2 separate regions of the Homo sapiens genome follow, and region 1 is linked to region 2. The links come from fine-mapping of genetic effects on gene expression. Tissue or cell type: sun-exposed skin. Region 2 holds a variant in brackets; the other region holds the start of a gene. All regions are shown on one strand. Distances are from middle to middle.

Region 1 (8,177 bases), 67 kb after region 2:
TTCACCATTTGTAGGAGTACAAATTGGGTACAGCCTTATTAGAAGGTAATTTGACAACATCCATCAAAAATGTAAGTACACATACAGGTATTTAATCTATAAATATATTTGTAATGTGTGCCAAAATAGAAAAAAAAAGTGCTTCTGGAAATACTGTAGTTGAAAAAAAATGAAAACAACCAAAATGCCCATCAGCAGATGCTTTCTTCACAACATACAATGGAATACTACACAGCAGTTTAAAAGAAATCAGTAGATCTATATGCATTGGCATGAACAAATCTCCAAGATATATTACAAAGTAAAAAAAGCAAAGTACAGAATGATGTAGCAATATAATTTCAGTGCAAATAAGGCAAAACACATATTTTAAAAATACATAAATGAGAATTAAATCATGTTTTTCTTGAAGGAATCACAAAAAAAATAGCAGATACTTTTAGGAAAAGAGGTGGAAAAGGAGGATTTTGCTTTTCAATGTATAAGTTTCTGTTGTATTCAAACTTCTCAGGCAGGTGCCAGTAGTACTTTTTAATGTAACATCAGCAAAATTATCTGAGAAGTAAGATTATGAGCCTTTCTTTCTTTTCTCCCTTATGCCTATCTAGATTAACAAAAAATTAAAATAAAAAAGATGATAGGCTATAATTATGTCATATTCCAAGGGTCTGTTCTCAACTTTTCCATTTGCGGGAGATCCCTTTCACCCAGCAACACTAAACTAAACTAAATTACTCCTTTCTGCAAAACTGGCATAGAATCACATCTACAAAGGGATGAAAGGCTCTTAAAGACCCATCTCCTTTTCTTCTGGTTATATCACAGAGTCAGCACTGAGGTGGGATGTGCCCAGGGTGTGGGGAGCACAGTAAGCCAGCTGAGCTGGGCTGAGAGCTGGGGTCACCGCAGGCCAGGCCAGGACTCTCCCTAACTCACTGCTGCAGTCCACCCCGCAGACAGACATTCATGACGTCCCCTACCTGCCAAATGCCCAAACTTCTGCCTTACCCACTTTGACCAGAAGGGTGGGACACTGGCTGGCAATTAGTCCAGACCCCTGGTTCAGATGCACAGAGAAGGCACCCTTAACATACAGAAAGTCTCCCTCATCCCCTAGGGTACACTGTCAGGGGATGCACGTCTCCCACCCTTCCATAAAACCCACCCTGCATGGGAACTTGGGGATAAAATGTGAAATGCAGGCAAATGTGTGGCCTTCCCTTCCTAGGAATGCTGACAGAGCTAGCAGGGCTTAAACACTGGTCCTCATTAGCCTCCTTTAGAAAATCCTATTGGACTCTTAAGAGCTTTTATGAGAAAAACAAAAACAAACTTTCTGAGGCTCAGCCACTGCTCAGGGCAGCCTGCAGCAAGACTGACAAGCATCACCTGAAGTCTCAGGTCTCCTAGCGCCTCACAACATATACCCTGCCCCTTGTCTCCCACAACTACTTGGCTTCCCAAATTCTCCCACCACAATAATAAATCAAACGAGTAGGTTGCCAAATGCCAGTCCGACGGTTACAAAAGTCCCAATACCCCAGTGCTGAGACTGCTGCTCTGCAGAAGGCCCCATTAAAGCCCACAGTGTGGCATTGGCTCACCTGATGGCTACTAATTGGCCCCCTGATGTGAAGACCCCATCCTTGGATCCCTCGGGTCCTGAGCAGGGGCATGCTGAGGTCCCAACTGTCCCCTTCTCACCAACCCACGCCCCCACTAACAACTGGGTGCAGAAGCCAGACTGGGGATCCTGAGGGGAAATTTCTTCTCAGGCCTGGAGACACTCAAAGATGGAAATTCTGGCCTGGGGAGTGGGGAGTGGTCGACATTTAGGGTTAGTGAGTCACAGAGAAGGAGCCATGCTAGGTCAGTCCGGGCAGGTGGTGGGCAGGGCCACCTGGTTCCAGGGACGGCCAGGAGGCCGGGAAGGGAATTGAGCTGCCCAGAATCCAGGGCGGAAGAGGCCCCTGCAGTGTTCTCGCCAGCGGCCCCAGTGAGAGCAGCCCAGCGACGGGCCCTTGTAGGCTCGTGCAGCTCGTGATCTGGGCCAGGACGCGGCGGGTCCACTCGCCTTTGCTTTCTGGGATGTTTGCAGAAGCACCGTGAAAGATTGATGCGGCCCCCTGGGTTGCGGAGCCCCAATTAGAGGCGTGACACCAGCATCTGTGCTGGGAGGATTCGGCCGGTCCCCGCGGCACGCCTAGCCCGGGGCGTCCTGGCCCAGGCGGGGAGGGAGCTGGGAGGCAGGTGGCGACGGGGCGGGGAGCTGGAGCGGGCCTGGAGTGGGGTGTAGGGAGGGGTCCAGGGAGGCCCCTACTCACCGGCAGGCGGCTGCGCCCCCCGCAGGGCGGGGACCCAGCCACCCACCAGCCCTGCTGCCGCTCCGGCCCTTTCTGGCCGGCTCTGGCTTCATGGAGACCCTGGGGCGCAGCGCTTACTTACCCTCTAGCTGTGGCGGGCAGTGGAAATAAAACATCGCCGGCTGTCAGATCGGCTGGACGGCCGAGACCTGGGAGGGTGGCAGCAGAACGGACCCGCGCGCGTTGCTCCTGCCTGGCTGCAAAGCAAACAGCGATAGAGCTTCAAGTCTCCCTCTGCCAGCGCTCCCGCCCAGCCCTAGGGCGCACCCGGCGCTCCCCTCCTGGAAAGTCCCTCCCAACGCCCTCATCTCACTGCGGGGGACAGGAGGGAAGGCGGCAGCCCCGTCGCAAGCAGCAACCCCACAGGGCAGTCCTTCGGGTGTGTCCACCTCCCGGACGGCCGTGCCCTCACCCTGGCCCCAGCACCAAACCCCGCAGCGTAGTTTCTGGCTCTCTGGGGTCCCAGCCAGAAGCCCTGCACCCGGGCCACCGCAGCCAGGTCCGGCTAGCGCGCAAGGCCATCTGCGAGCTGCAGCTCAGGCCAGGAAGGCAGCCGAGCCCCAAGGCCCGGCGCTCGGGGCCCGGCGAGTGGGTCAGGAGCCGAGCATACCTCGGCGGGCGGCGGTCGAGGAGGTCGGAGCGTGACCGCCTCCGATCCGCAAGCCCTGCTCGGCTGGCGGCGGGCGGGGCTCGGCGCGGCTGGCGCCCGCAGGACCAAAGAAGTGACTCGGGAAGTGGCCAGATGTCTTGCTGTCTGTCTGCAGCGCGCGCCGCCGCTCAGCACTCGCCTTTATAATCTCACGCATAATTGGCCTTAATCTGATTATTTCCAGCGCTGTCTACAGCGAGTAACTTGGATAGGTCTATTGGGCCTTACAAATGGCCCACGTGGTGTTAAAAAAAAAATCCGTCATTTCTCAGCAAACATCAGGAATGCTTTTTCCTCTTTTAAAAGAGAACGATACAACCACCACCACCATCACCCCCAAAAACATACATTTTCCGAAAACACACTAGGCCCCACCCCCCACCTCATGTCCCCTCAGAGGCAAACCTTTCTCCGAGAGAGCCTGGTTTGGGCTGCCCTTATCAAAGGCCTGGTGACTCCCGGGCTGCAAATTGGCAAAGCGCTGCTAATTGTCGCCGCCGGATGGGTTTTGGGGGGACTCTTTGCACACGGCTTCCCTTTCCAAACGATCGTACAAAAGGAAAGTTTGATTTTGTTCTCAGCAAGGGGTCCCTGAATTTATGTTCGCTTCTCGATGCAAATGATATGCGGTGGGACCCTTTGCAATTACTTTTAAAATGCATCCGAGGCAGACACTCAACGGAGAGAGACCGCCCTTCTCTCTGCCTGGGTGAAAATTAAACTCTAAAGTACCGGGCTGAAATTTTCAAGTCAGGGGCGCGGGATTGGATCAAATCACATAAACTGCAAAAAAAGCAAGTCTAATGGCGCATAATTGGTTCTGTAATAGCATTACACCAGGATAATAGCCCGTTACGGCCCCCTGCACTATTAAGTGCTTCCCTGGCGGAAAGCCTTTATGATATTAAAGGGGGAATATAATGATATTTTGGTTATTAAATGCGTGTAATTAATTTATGCACCACTGAAAATAAAGTTGGTATTATGACCCACTCAAGATGCATCAGAAGATGCAAGTCAGACAACTGTTGATAAGTTCTGGTGTCTGTGCTCCGTCTAGACTGCTGATTTTATTTTGGGACGATGGCTTCTTGGACAGACTACATAAATTGAATATTTTATAAACATTCTAATGCTGCGTTAGGGAGCCTTGGCGAGGTGGTGGGTCGGGTCCCTGCACGGCCCGGGATACAGCCTTGATCTTAAAGACGCAGCGCTTTGGAAACAAAAGGCCTGGCAGGCCCGCCGCTGGACACCAGCGCTGGGCAAGGAGCATCGAGCTGCAGGACAGAGCGCTGGGTCCCGGCCGCCGTTGACGCCCCTCCGAAAACAGCCGGGAGGAAGACCAGTCCCGCTCCGGTCGAGGCAAGTCAGGATCTATTCCAGTGAAGCGGCCCTTCCTGGGCTCAGTCGCTCCAGAGCAGAGTCTGCTCTGCCTCGGGGAAAGAATCACAGGAAACTTCCGCTCGTTTCAGAGCGGAGAGAGCTCGGGGCGCCATTTCCGCCAGGGCCACCGACTCCGAGAGTCCAGGCAGCCGGCCCGGGAGGAGCGGCTAGCAGGTCCCGAAGGCGGGTGAGGTGGCAGGCAGGGGCCGGCAGGGCAGCCGAGGGCCTTTCCTACGTCATGCCAAGAGGGCTGGGAGCCCCTAGAGCTGATCCTCCCTTAGCCCAGGTCAAGAGACTGGCTCGCGCGCGCTGTCTCTCTCCCTGTCTCCCTCAGAGGGCCCCTGCTCTCTGGAGCTCTTGACAAGAGCCCGAGGCTCCTCTTGCCGCCTAGGTCTGCCGAAAGTCCCCTCGGGTTCCCTCCTGCCCTAGGCAGCAGTTCCCTGCCTGTGCGCTTTGGGAACCCGGTGGCCGTGAAGTGAGGTGCGGACAGCTTCTGGGCCGCCTCGGCCAAGATGCTCAGGCGCACCTGGGGGTGTGTGCGGGAACCCTCAGCGGCAGCAGCCCAGCCCGGGGTGCAGTGTTGGCCCCAGAAACCAATGAGGTCCAAACGCCAGTCTCAGTTCCCCATCCCTGACATCGACCGAGGCAAGTTCCTATTAAGGCCCAGAGATGACCCCGGGACGAGACAGGCTCATCCGGCGCGGATGAGACAGGCTCAGACCTGCGCGGTCTGAGGACGGCGCGCTCGCCGAGCAACCCGGCAGGTCAGAACCCTGGACAGCGGCGCCGGTTTCCGCACCCCCACCCACCCCCGGCTGCTGCGGAGAAAGAAGCCGTACCGGGGGCCCAGCCGGGGCCCCTCGCTGCTCAGGGGTGGGATCCGCCCGGCCGGACCCCAGGCGTCCGGGGACCGACCCCAATCCTCTCCCAGTCCAAACCTGCGAAAGTTACTCCGGACATGCGCTCAGCGCTGGCAACAGAGACAAAACTCCCTTCTCCGCAGTACCACGCGCCGCTCCTACCCGGCCGCTGCAGCCGGAAACCATCTCGCGGCCCCCGAGGAGAGTCCGGCCGCCTCACTGACTAGATAACCAGCCGAGCTCCCTCAACACACCCACCTCGCGGGGGCTCTAAGCCGGCTTGGGACCCTCGGCCTCGCCTCGCCCGGCGCTCCTCTCCCGGAGCCGCTAGGCTGGGCTCCTTCCCGTTGGCAAAACAGCGAGTAAACAAACAACCAAACAACCTTAGAAACGAAAGGCTGCACCAAACTTTGATGACGCCAGCCCCCTTTTTTTCCGAATGTCTCGACACCCGGGAGAAGGTGACTAATAGGTGTTCGCTACGGTCCCCCTCCCCCTAAAAAAGGGCGTTAGTAACGAAAAGGTTATTTTTCCTTAATTTTTGTGCGGTAAAATGTATTTTCCAATTAACCAAATTCGCCGATCTGTCTCGCTTGGACACTCTGATAATTTACAACCTAAAAGTGTACTTTCTTTATCTAAAGACCAAGGTGACTGCTTTTAATTTTCTCTAACCTCTTTACACTTGATGTTCACCAGACTCATAATGTTAATTGGCTTCATATACGGATCATCAGTTTAATGAAGAAATAAATCCTGTGTTGCTTTATGTTTTAACAGTGATTGCTTTAATGAGGAATGTGACGTGTTCCAAAATCAAAGCTGCAGGAGACATTAGAGGGGCTTCCACTAGGACAGAAATGCTTATTTAAAGTTAAAACCGCGGGGTCATATTTCAGCAGATTCACAGTCCTCCCCACCCCCTCCCCCGCTCCCCGCCCTCACCTAGCCTGCCTCCCGCCTCTGTAGGGAGACAATCCTGGGTCCTCAGTGCCCCTTCTCTCCGCATCTCATACCCGCAGCCACAGCATCTGCATTCCCGAGAATCATTTCCTGGTTGCTACATAGGGTGTGCTACTTTGCCTCCTGTCCCATAGGGAAGAGAGAAGCCAGCTCAGGGTGGGGAGTTCAACTTTCAAAGTTGTTCATGTTTTTAAAAATAAAATGGGAAGACAGTAACACGCCTGAAGACTGGCGTGCAGATGTTGTTACAGATGCAGCTCCCCCAGAGCCGCATGTCTTAGTGCTGAAAATTCGAGGCTTGGCTCCCAAAGGCTGACAGCTCCAGCTCAGGCCCAGTGAGTGGGCTGCTGACCCCCCAGGTTCTAGCCACTGCAACTGTCTGCAGGGATGCGCTAGGCTTCTGCCCAGGTGATGGAAGTTTTACATCTCTATATCAATTAATAGCAGAGTAAATCTGCTTTCTCTAATGGGTGTTTGATTTTTCTAATTTTAAGCTGGTTCTATGAAAGGAAAACTGTCATCTCAGAAACACTAAGAGCAGCAATAAAAAGCTGGAAATGCGAGCATCTATCTAAGCCCTCAATTGTTTTCAGTTGAATTATGAATCATTTTAAATTGATTCCTGAAAAGAATTCCAAATCCTTAGAAAATGTAGGGGTTTGAAGGCTCCGAGTTGGGTCTTAAATACCATACATAGTATTCATTTCTTACTGTTTGCCTTGTTTTAGGAAAATTGGGAAAATATTTGGAGACACCTCTGTCCTCATCTTTTGAGCCCAAATACAAAAATATGTGTTGGATTTGACATCTTAATTGTGCTCAGAAAGGATTTTCACAACCTCCCTTTTAAAACTTTCCTTAGCAGAAATGACTTCAGTACACATGGCTTAAACCCATAGCAAGAGGGTAAAGCAGGTAAAATACTTAAATTATCAGGGAGGAAAAAACCACACTGAATTCCTAATTATATGTTTTGGAAGGGCCCAGGTTTGATATTTTTACAAATGTTTTAAAGGCTCTCTAGCATAATCCCCGGTGGATATATCTCAGTGTGAATATGGCGTATTCTCTACTTGTCGGCAAATCTATCGTTATATTGTAGTTTTGGAAATTGCCAAAAAAGTTAGCTTAGCTAAGCTAAACATGAGAGAATATGTGAAGGACATAGCAGTTAATGGAAATTCCAGATTTCCCGGGGACTTAGGAACAGAAAATATATATACACAACAAGGGATAGATATGCATTTTATCATCCTGGAAATTCCCTATAATTCACTAGTTTTACTGCCATATAAAACATAGTAGCTGCTCAAATGCAAGCCAACTTCCAATAACTTCACCTGTTCTTGTCCAGTGACCACAGGACAAAGTATATTCCCATGTGGTTCCCAGGGATCTCAGAGCTCAGCTTCAACCTTTGGCCCTGTGTTTGCTGCAGAGCTTGGAGGGTTGCCCATGGCCTCCTAACTCTCACAAGGAAAGAGAGCACAGCCCAGGAGGAAGGCCCACCACCTGCAGAGTCTGTGCCCCTGCCTCCATTCAAGCAGGCTTCGGTCCTCAGGAGACCAGTGAGCTTGAGCAGGTCACTTACTCTCTCAGGACATCCCTCTCTCATTGTGTGACATGGGACAACAATGCCACATCAAGTGCTGGAGGGAGGATTAAAAGACAGTGCCAGCCGTGTGCGGTGGCTCACGGCTGTAATCCCAACACTTAGGGAGGCCGAGGCGGGCAGATCACAAGGTCAAGAGATCGAGACCATCCTGGCCAACATGGTGAAACCCTGTCTCTAATAAAAACACAAAAATTAGCTGGGCATGGTGGCACATGCCTCTAGTCCCAGCTACTCGGGAGGCTGAGGCAGGAGAATCACTTGAACCCAGGAGGCAGAGGTTGCAGTGAGCTGAGATTGCACCACTGCACTCCAGCCTGTCGACAGAGTGAGACTCCGTCTCA
Region 2 (8,177 bases):
GCCTGCTCCCCTGCTGCCAGCAACATTTGGGAGGAGTCTTCCCAGGCCCCTGGAGGACCAGAGCTGCTTCCCGAGGAGCCTAATCAAGCCAGCCCCTGGGCCAGCTCCAGTCCTGCCAGGGTCACCCGGAGGGAGGACCTGACCCACGCCCTCGTGTGGGAGGGCGGCTCTGACCCCCTACTTGAGCTGTCGGCAGAAGACCTCCGGACCCTCTCTCCAAGAGGTTCATTGCTGGATGTGGCCACCAGCCCAGCAGGCACCTCTGGGAGACTTGAGCTTCCTGCACAGCTAGAGAGGACAGCAAGCAAGCCACCTGCAGTCCCACCCAAAACAGAGAAAGCCCTGCGGCGGGCAAAGAAGCTGGCAAGTAAGAGGAGGAAGACGGATCAGGCTCAGGAGAAGCATGGCGAGTCACAGGAGGGAAAGCCCTGCCCGGAGGACTTGGAGCAGACACAGCAAAGGCCGCTGTGCCCCAGAGAGAGGCCCCGACACAATTTCCCCGTGGTCCGTTCCCTGCCCCCTCCCGTGCACCGCCACTCCGTGTCCGGCTTCTCGGAGCCTGTCGGGAGGCGGCCCGGGGGCCCCCAGTCCCTCACACCCCTGCCCGCGTACCCCGCCACCCAGAAGGTCCTCCAGGATCCGCAGTCCGGGGAGTACTTTGTCTTCGACTTGCCACTCCAGGTGAAAATCAAGACCTTCTATGACCCAGAGACGGGCAAGTATGTCAAGGTCTCCATCCCGTCCTCCGAGGGGGCCTCCCCAGAGCCGCCCCCACCGGACGCCCTGGCCGCTCCCTATGTGCTGTACCCCGGCTTCCAGCCAGTGCCCGTGACGGCCTTGATGCCGCTGCGCTGCTCCTCTCAGCTCTCCGCGCCCACCTTCCTCAGGCAGGGCCCTCGTGCCTCCGCGGCCCGCGCCAGGACCCAGAGTGTCCACGAGTCTGGACTACAGCTGGACCCAGGGCCTCACGGTGACTGCACCCCGCACTCTGCAGGCCAGCGCCCTCATGGTCCTCCCCAGAGCCCAGGAGAGGAGGGTGTAGAAGCTCCAGGCCTGGGCATCATCTCCACTGATGACCTAGAGGACTTTGCCACAGAAGGCATTTCTTGAGTTACTGCAGGCTGTCCCCCACCCCCAGATGAACCCAGAGGAGCTTACTTCCCCCTCCCCCAAAACAAGCAACACACACACACACACACACACACACACACACACACACGATCATCAACACATACTTAGCCTTTTTAGATCCATAAAGTCCAGAAGGCAGTAGGGATCCCAAGACGACCTCACCCAAAGGGCTCCCTGGCTCTCCTCTGATGGAGGGGCACTGCTTGCTTGGCCCGGTCCCCTCCGTGCCAGTTCCCAGGCGCACTCTACTCCAGCCCTTCTCCCTCCCTCCCTTCCTCCCTCTCCTGGCCCACCCTGCTCTTCCCTCGCCCTGCAAATTAGGTGGGTGTGGCAAGGGCACCGCCTGGTCCCAAGTGTCCCTCTGTACCCACACCCACCCACTCACTTGTAAGCTCCTTGATGAGCAAACCCCTAAGGCCCCCAGCTCAGACTCAGCAGGCATTCAGGTCAACTCAGGCAGACTGGCTAAGGACCAGCCCAGGGCAATTTTGCAGAAATGATCATTTGCACAGAATGGGTTTCCTTCACAGGGAGAAACTTGCCTCTGAAAGCTATTTTCTGATCAAGAAAAGGCCCACTTTTTAAAAAGTGAAACAAGTTTGCAGATACGGTTCTCTTCCTGGACTCCTGTCTTCCTTCTGTGGGCAGTAGGGGTCAGGGCTGACAGAGCCACCTCCCTGTCTACCACAGTCTGAGTCTGGCGTCCCACCTTGTCCCTTCAACACCTGTCCATGCCTTCTCAGGGCCAGGCCCTCCAGTGGGTCCTGACTGCCCTGATTTAGTAACCAGTACCTGTGCCCTCCACTCAAAAAGAAAGTGTGTTCACACCCTCACCCCCCATCAGTTCCTGACCTTTGGGGATTTGGAGGGAAGTGTTGGGATTAACTGAAGAGTTTGAGAGTTTTACCTAATGAAACGGATCCACTGGCCCAGCACAGTAAAGCCAAAATCCACACTGAGGTTTGCAGTGGGAGAAAGGAGGGTGTTTATTTGCAGGGCACCAAGCAAGGGGAATCAGGCAGCTCACGCTTAAAACCCAACCTCCCCCGTGGCTTGCAAGCATGGATTTTTAATGGCAAGGGAAATGTTCAGGAAAGCCAAAGTTACAGGTGAAATTGTAAATCAACACATGGAGGGTACACATTGGTTCGGCCTAAAAAGGCAGGATATCTTGAACCAGGGACTTACGGGTCATAGGGTGGAGTCAAACATTTTCTGAATTGCAATTGGTTAAGGAAGAGAAGCTTTGTTTTAAAATTTGGGTTAGCAGAAAGGAATGTTAGCTCTGGCTTGTGGGTGGGACTTCCCCCAGGCCCCCCAGGAAGAAATATAGAACAAAGAGCCGTGCTCAGAGTTCAGTCCTCAGCTCCCTCTTCTCTGAGGTCTCTGTGCCAGTGGATCCGTTTGGTGGGGGTCTGGGTTTCTGAAAAACAACTCGGAGTCAGAAGTTGAGATGTTCTTTTTAATTTCCAGAGGGAACAAAACACCCCAGGACTCTGGCTTCCTTCGCTGTTGTTTTAGGTTATTATTACCTTCCTGCTTATCAAGTTGTTCATTGGCTTCTTAGGGCTAGCTAAGTGCCTGGAATTTCCCTTGAAGGAAACCAAGATTTTCCTGTATTTCCATGGTTGGGGAGGGGACCCTGCTCGATCTTCAGAACAGGTGCCCTCTTGCAGGCAGCCGGCTAGGAAGGAAACCAGCACCCAGGGTATTGATAGGTTTCCATGCCACGGCTTCTACAGAAGCCTCTTAATTCTTGTTCTACTGGAAACACAGGGGCAAAACGTGCCTCCCTCTTTGTTTAGAAACCTCAGCAGCTGCCAGGACTATGCTGCCCAGGGCCCAGGGGACCATGCAAGATGCATTGTCCTTGTCCTGTTGGCAAAGGCGCCATTTCCACACTGGGAGGATGGGGAGGCATTCAGTAAACCAAGTCCCAGACTCACACAAATACAGGGGCTTTGATTTGGATTCAAGATTTTATACCTTTTTGTTTTCCCAACAAGTGCAGCCACACCTGATTTTCATTGTGAAAATACCACACAACGCCCCCTCCTTTCCTCCCAACCAATGCCATTCAATTTGGCCACACC[T/C]GTTGCCAGCCACGCAACCAGCCAGGAGTGCAAGCAGATCACTATCCCAAAATCTGGTTCCCATGAGTCGCTCACTGGGTGCAAGCGACAAGAACAAAGCTGCATTTTGGCCTGCCTCCAAATCACCTCAAGCATCCTCTCCACTTTGTTTTCATCTCACTAAAACATGAGAAGGAATATCTCATTTTGCAATTCTCAGGGTCCAAGGAAAAGAATTGTCTAACGAAGGAAGAGTCCATCTGTTCAATAAGAACCACGGTTATAGTAACTATGTCCCCACAGGAGAAAATATTACTTTGGGGAACTTATTTTGGGGAAGCGATCTTCTTCCTTAGAACCAATATTGGCAAGGCTGTGGGTAGAACTAAACACATAAAGTCTTGCTCCCAGCAAGTCAGCTAGAAGGACGCCTCACTCCCTTACAGCACTGGGCCTGTCTTCCTGAAGCACAGAATGCCTCCAGGGAACACAAGCAGAGAGTCTCCATCCAGTGAAGCCCAACTCACTAGCCAGTGATGTTTTCCTCTTTCCATTTGCTCCTGAGGGAGGTCATGTATGCCTTCTTCCTTCCTCACGCCCTCCTTCTTTCTCCCTTCCTTGTTTCCCTCCCTCTCTCCTTCTCTCTCTTCCTTTCTTCTTTCCTCCCTCCCTTTTACAAACATTTGCACTGTGCCAGGCACTTTGATGGGCGCTGATGGTACCATGACAATAAGATCTGGTCTCTGCACTCAAGGAGTTAAAATCTAACAGAGAAGAAAGATAATTACAATCCCACATGTTACGTAATTTAATAGGTTGTTCTGAGGAACACCTAACTTGCTCTGGCTTCAGGGGTTGGCACCTGAGCCAAGTCAAGAAACACAAAGCTGTCCATTAATTTATGAAAAAATTCAGAATTTCCCCAGCTTTAATCTATCAAAGATGACATTGATTAAATACTAATAGATTTGTCTTGCTATATCAAAGCATATTAATTTAGCTAACTGTTCATCAGCATTTCTAATCAGCACAAAAGCTGAACCAGTGTAGCCTCACAGGATAGACCTTGGTTGATAGGTCTTTCAGCTTCTGAATTGATATTTCACTCACAGGGGTTGCCCAGCAAAACCACTATTTCTGCCATTGTGTTTAGTAGGACAGTGGTGAGATTTATGACAACATGTTGTTTGTGGAAATTACAGATGTTGTCTGCATCTTCTGTGTAGTACCCTGGCCCTTTTCTATGAGTATGACCCCTCTAAATGTCTCCTGGGGAGAGGACATGGAGGTGGAGCACCTCCAGGAAACAGTTGAAGGTCCCGGGTTGTTCAACTAAACATGACCAAGGGCTCACATTGTCAAACATGTACCATGCGCTGGCCCATGAGTGGGGAGCTTGAGCCTGGACTTGGTCCTCCCAGCAAGCCCTTGAGAGAGGCCCTCATTAGCCTCATTTTACTGTAAAGGAAACAAAGGTGCCAAGATGGGATGTAACTGCCCACGGTCACAGAGCCACTAAGTGAGGGGCCATGCCAGGGTCTTGGGCCCCTCTTACTTCTAGGTGGACTCTTTAATACTCAACCAGTACTTCGTAAGTGCGGTCCCTGCAGCAGCAGCCTCCACATCACCAGGGGCTTGTGAGAAGTCCAGAATCCCTATCTCCATCTTCACAAGCTTCCCTGGGTGGTTGATCCATTTGTGCATTGAATTCTAAGTGCTGTCAGTCTCTGCTTAGCCTGTATAAATTTTGGGGAGGTGCACTGGATGTCTTCATGTCTCCACAGCAATGTCTTGTGCAAAGGAAGAGAGCAGCACATCTAGGTGGGGGAGTTGCAGGGAGATGATTGACACTCAATGTGAGAAAGGCATCTCTGAGGACGAGCATCATCTTTTTTTTTTTTTTTATTTGAGACAGAGTCTCACTCTGTTGCCCAGGCTGGAGTGCAGTGGCTCGATCTCAGCTCACTGCTACCTCTGCCTCCCGGATTCAAGCAATTCTCCTGCCTCAGCTTCCTGAGTAGTTGAGATTACAAGTGCGCACTACCGCACCTGGCTAATTTTTGTATTTTTAGTAGTGACGAGGTTTTGCCATGTTGCCAGGCTGGTCTCGAACTCCTGACCTCAAGTGATCCACCCACATTGGCCACCCTAAGTGCTGGGATTACAGGCGTGAGCCACGACATCCAGCCACTAGGATCGTCTTGACATTACGTCAACTGCTAGGGATAACTGAGCTCCCTGCCACTGGAAATGTACAATGGAAGCTGATGACCCCTTTCCTAAGACAAGGATGGATTCAGGTATCAGAAGGGACCTAACTATCTTTTGGGACCCCAGGCTACTTTTGGGGCTCCAGTATGCCACCGGCAAGGATGCAAGGTCTCAACAAGGAGTGGCCATAGGCACATGATGGAAAACATTTGCATACAAAAGGGGAGCTCTGTGGCAAAACCTGAACTCTGTGCATGTAGGAAACATTTTGGCCTAGATACACCATGAAGTTGAACACACCTGTTTGTACAGGTCTTCCAAATCATTCAGATGTGAAGTCCAAAGTGAGTGGAGCAAACTCGGAGCCACATCCCTGAGCTTGTCACCACCAGAGTCTTGTTTAGGCTTCCTCAGTGTCACCTCACAGAGCCGCCTGAGCAGAGGGGTCTTCCCTTCCACCAGGTGGATGGGTGGGCTCCTCCCTTAGCTGCTGGCTTCTAGCAGAATGCTCCAGCCTGCCTGGGCCTCAGAATCATCTGTGCACTTGTTAACACTTGTTATTCATCCCAGCCCTATTTCCAATTCACCTCATCAGATTCTCCAAGTGTGGGAAAGAGTCAATGCAGAGGTGCAAATTCCCGGGAGTTTCTGGTTAAACCAGTCTCACAAATGCCACTCCAGAGCACAGTTCCACATCTGGGCCCCACATACTGGCCAGGAGCTGCCAGGCCCAGAGTTCTGCTCAGGGGAAACACCCTCCTGTGGAAGGTTATGTGGAGGTAGGACCTGGGGCAAGAAGAACTCAGAGGCACTACTTTCTTCATGTGGAAGCGGTGAATGGGGAAAGGTATGACAGCCCTTGAGGGCCACCCAGTGCAGCCTCCAGCCCTGCGCAGAGCCACCTGGCCTGCTTCCTGCTGCCACACCTTCCTCTCCTCCTCCAGGTGTGCCCCAAAGCTCTATCAGGAGGCTACTCTTCCACAGAAGGGAGGAGGGGCATTGTTAGAAATAAAGACTTCCCTTTGAAGGAAAGTTCAAACTTTCCCTCTGAAGGTTCCATAATTGAATCTGCTGAGATAAACTGACAATAGACAGATTAACCAGAGAAAAGGCCTACAAATTTATTAACATGCAAGCCCAGGGGAGTTGCACGAAGTGTGCAACTCTAAGAAGAACCAGATGGTTGAAACTTAAATATCCTCTTTGTAGAGGAGAGGGAGTTGGGGGTTGCAATTCTGAGGAAGAGTAAATGATTTTTTAGGGAAGATAAATGGGTCCAAAGAACAGACAATGGCCTAGAGCAAAGTTCCCCTGGGTCCCGGGTGTGGTATCCACTCCAGTCGTCTTTCCAAGCCTTCTTTCCTGTAAGTTCATCTCTGTTTGACAAGCTAGGGAAGGGAGTCCAAGACAACTGCATTCCTTCTGGAGGAACTTCCCTTAGTCAAGAAAGCCCCTCCTTGCCCTTCGGGAGAGGCAAAGAGGTGTGGGACAGGGTCTAGAGAAGGTCAGAGGGACCTTGGTTCTGGGGCTGCTTCTTCAGTTCAAAGTATTCAGCATGTCAACGCACCACACTTTAGGGTAACACTTTAAACTGGGTGAAGCCTGGGGCTCTGACCTACGCAAGTAGATGTCCGAGGATGAAGGTGCTCCACTAACCACTATCCCCAAACAGGGAGTTAACCTTCTTGTGCTCATCATTTGCCAAACTGTGGTTTAGTTTTTAAGTCTTTGCACTGTCTCAGAATTTTTCTCGAGCCTCAGCTTGCTCTGGGCACTGTCACATGGATGCCATTTCCCTGGGTCCTTGTCTGGCATCAGTCCTGCTCCTGGGTCCCAGCCCCAACTCCCACCGCTTGTGGCCATCCTTCCTGAGCTTCAGAGCCCTCCCTTAGGCCCCTTCATGAGAACATTGTCAGCACCTGCCTTCCTGTCATTCGTGATCATTCTTCTATTTTCCTCTGAATTTGGAAACCTTTGGCTCGTGTGGTCCTCTTTCCCATTTACAAAGGCCATATACGTCACCAGTCTCCTTTGGCATTCCCGTGCTTTTACCAGCCCATTCCTCCTCACTGATGTAGCCTGAAAAAGTCAGCAGGCCAAGTCAATAGTTAATCGAACAGTTGGCTTCTAGCAGAGACTGCCAGCCAGTGCTGACAGAAGTGGAGACCTCGTTGCTGCTTTCTTGCACTTGTAGTCTTCATGTACTTGTGTGAGGAGTGACCCCTGCACAGGGCAAGGTGATCGCAGTGCCCCCACCCCCCATCTGTCCTGACTCACACACAGTTACTACATCTCCATGCACAGGGCAAGTTGATCTCAGTGGGCGCCCCCATCTGTTCTGACCCACACACAGTTACCACATCTCCACTGTCCAATGTGCTGGTTTCCCAAAAGGCGGATACCTCTTGATTGAAACCTTTAGACCAATGCTCCACATCACTAATCATTAGGGAAATGTAAATCAAAACCACAATAAGATACCACCTTATACCCAATGGATGGCTACTATCAAAAAGAAAATGGAAAATAGCAAGTGTTGGCGAGGGTGTAGAGAAATTGTACACTGCCTGGTGGTCCAAGCCATAGTCCTGGTTGCCATCCCACCTGCTCCCAATCTCTTGCCCCCAATTCAGTTAGGCCCCAAACCTGTCAATTATACCTCCAGGTATTTATCAGTCCATCATCCATCTGCACCCACCATCATCCCTCACAGGACTGTTGCTGGCATCTCTTCACTGCTCCCACTTCTATTATGACCTCCTT

Alleles and levels. Positions count from the first base shown, and alleles are read on the strand shown. Sizes are in standard deviations (SD) of each study's normalised expression.
With allele C in place of T in region 2, the expression in sun-exposed skin of the gene that starts at base 3,128 in region 1 is higher (small effect, 0.36 SD a copy in GTEx).

The links. PIP is the estimated chance that this variant, and not a neighbour inherited with it, causes the effect.
Region 1: DRGX starts here. The variant in region 2 is fine-mapped to the expression of DRGX in sun-exposed skin (GTEx, PIP 0.94).

The regions. Positions count from the first base shown.
Region 1 is chr10:49,392,962-49,401,138 of GRCh38, forward strand. It overlaps DRGX (dorsal root ganglia homeobox), which reads right to left and starts at 3,128. Exons shown (of 7, transcript NM_001276451.2): 1 at 2,974-3,128; 2 at 2,446-2,560. The coding sequence starts at 2,479. RefSeq lists a silencer at 5,143-5,302.
Region 2 is chr10:49,325,744-49,333,920 of GRCh38, forward strand. It overlaps C10orf71 (chromosome 10 open reading frame 71), which reads left to right. Exons shown (of 3, transcript NM_001135196.2): 3 at 1-1,749. The coding sequence ends at 1,110. Among named protein-coding and RNA genes, the nearest start is that of C10orf71, 31 kb to the left of the region's middle. The variant T/C (reference allele first, on the strand shown) is at 3,225.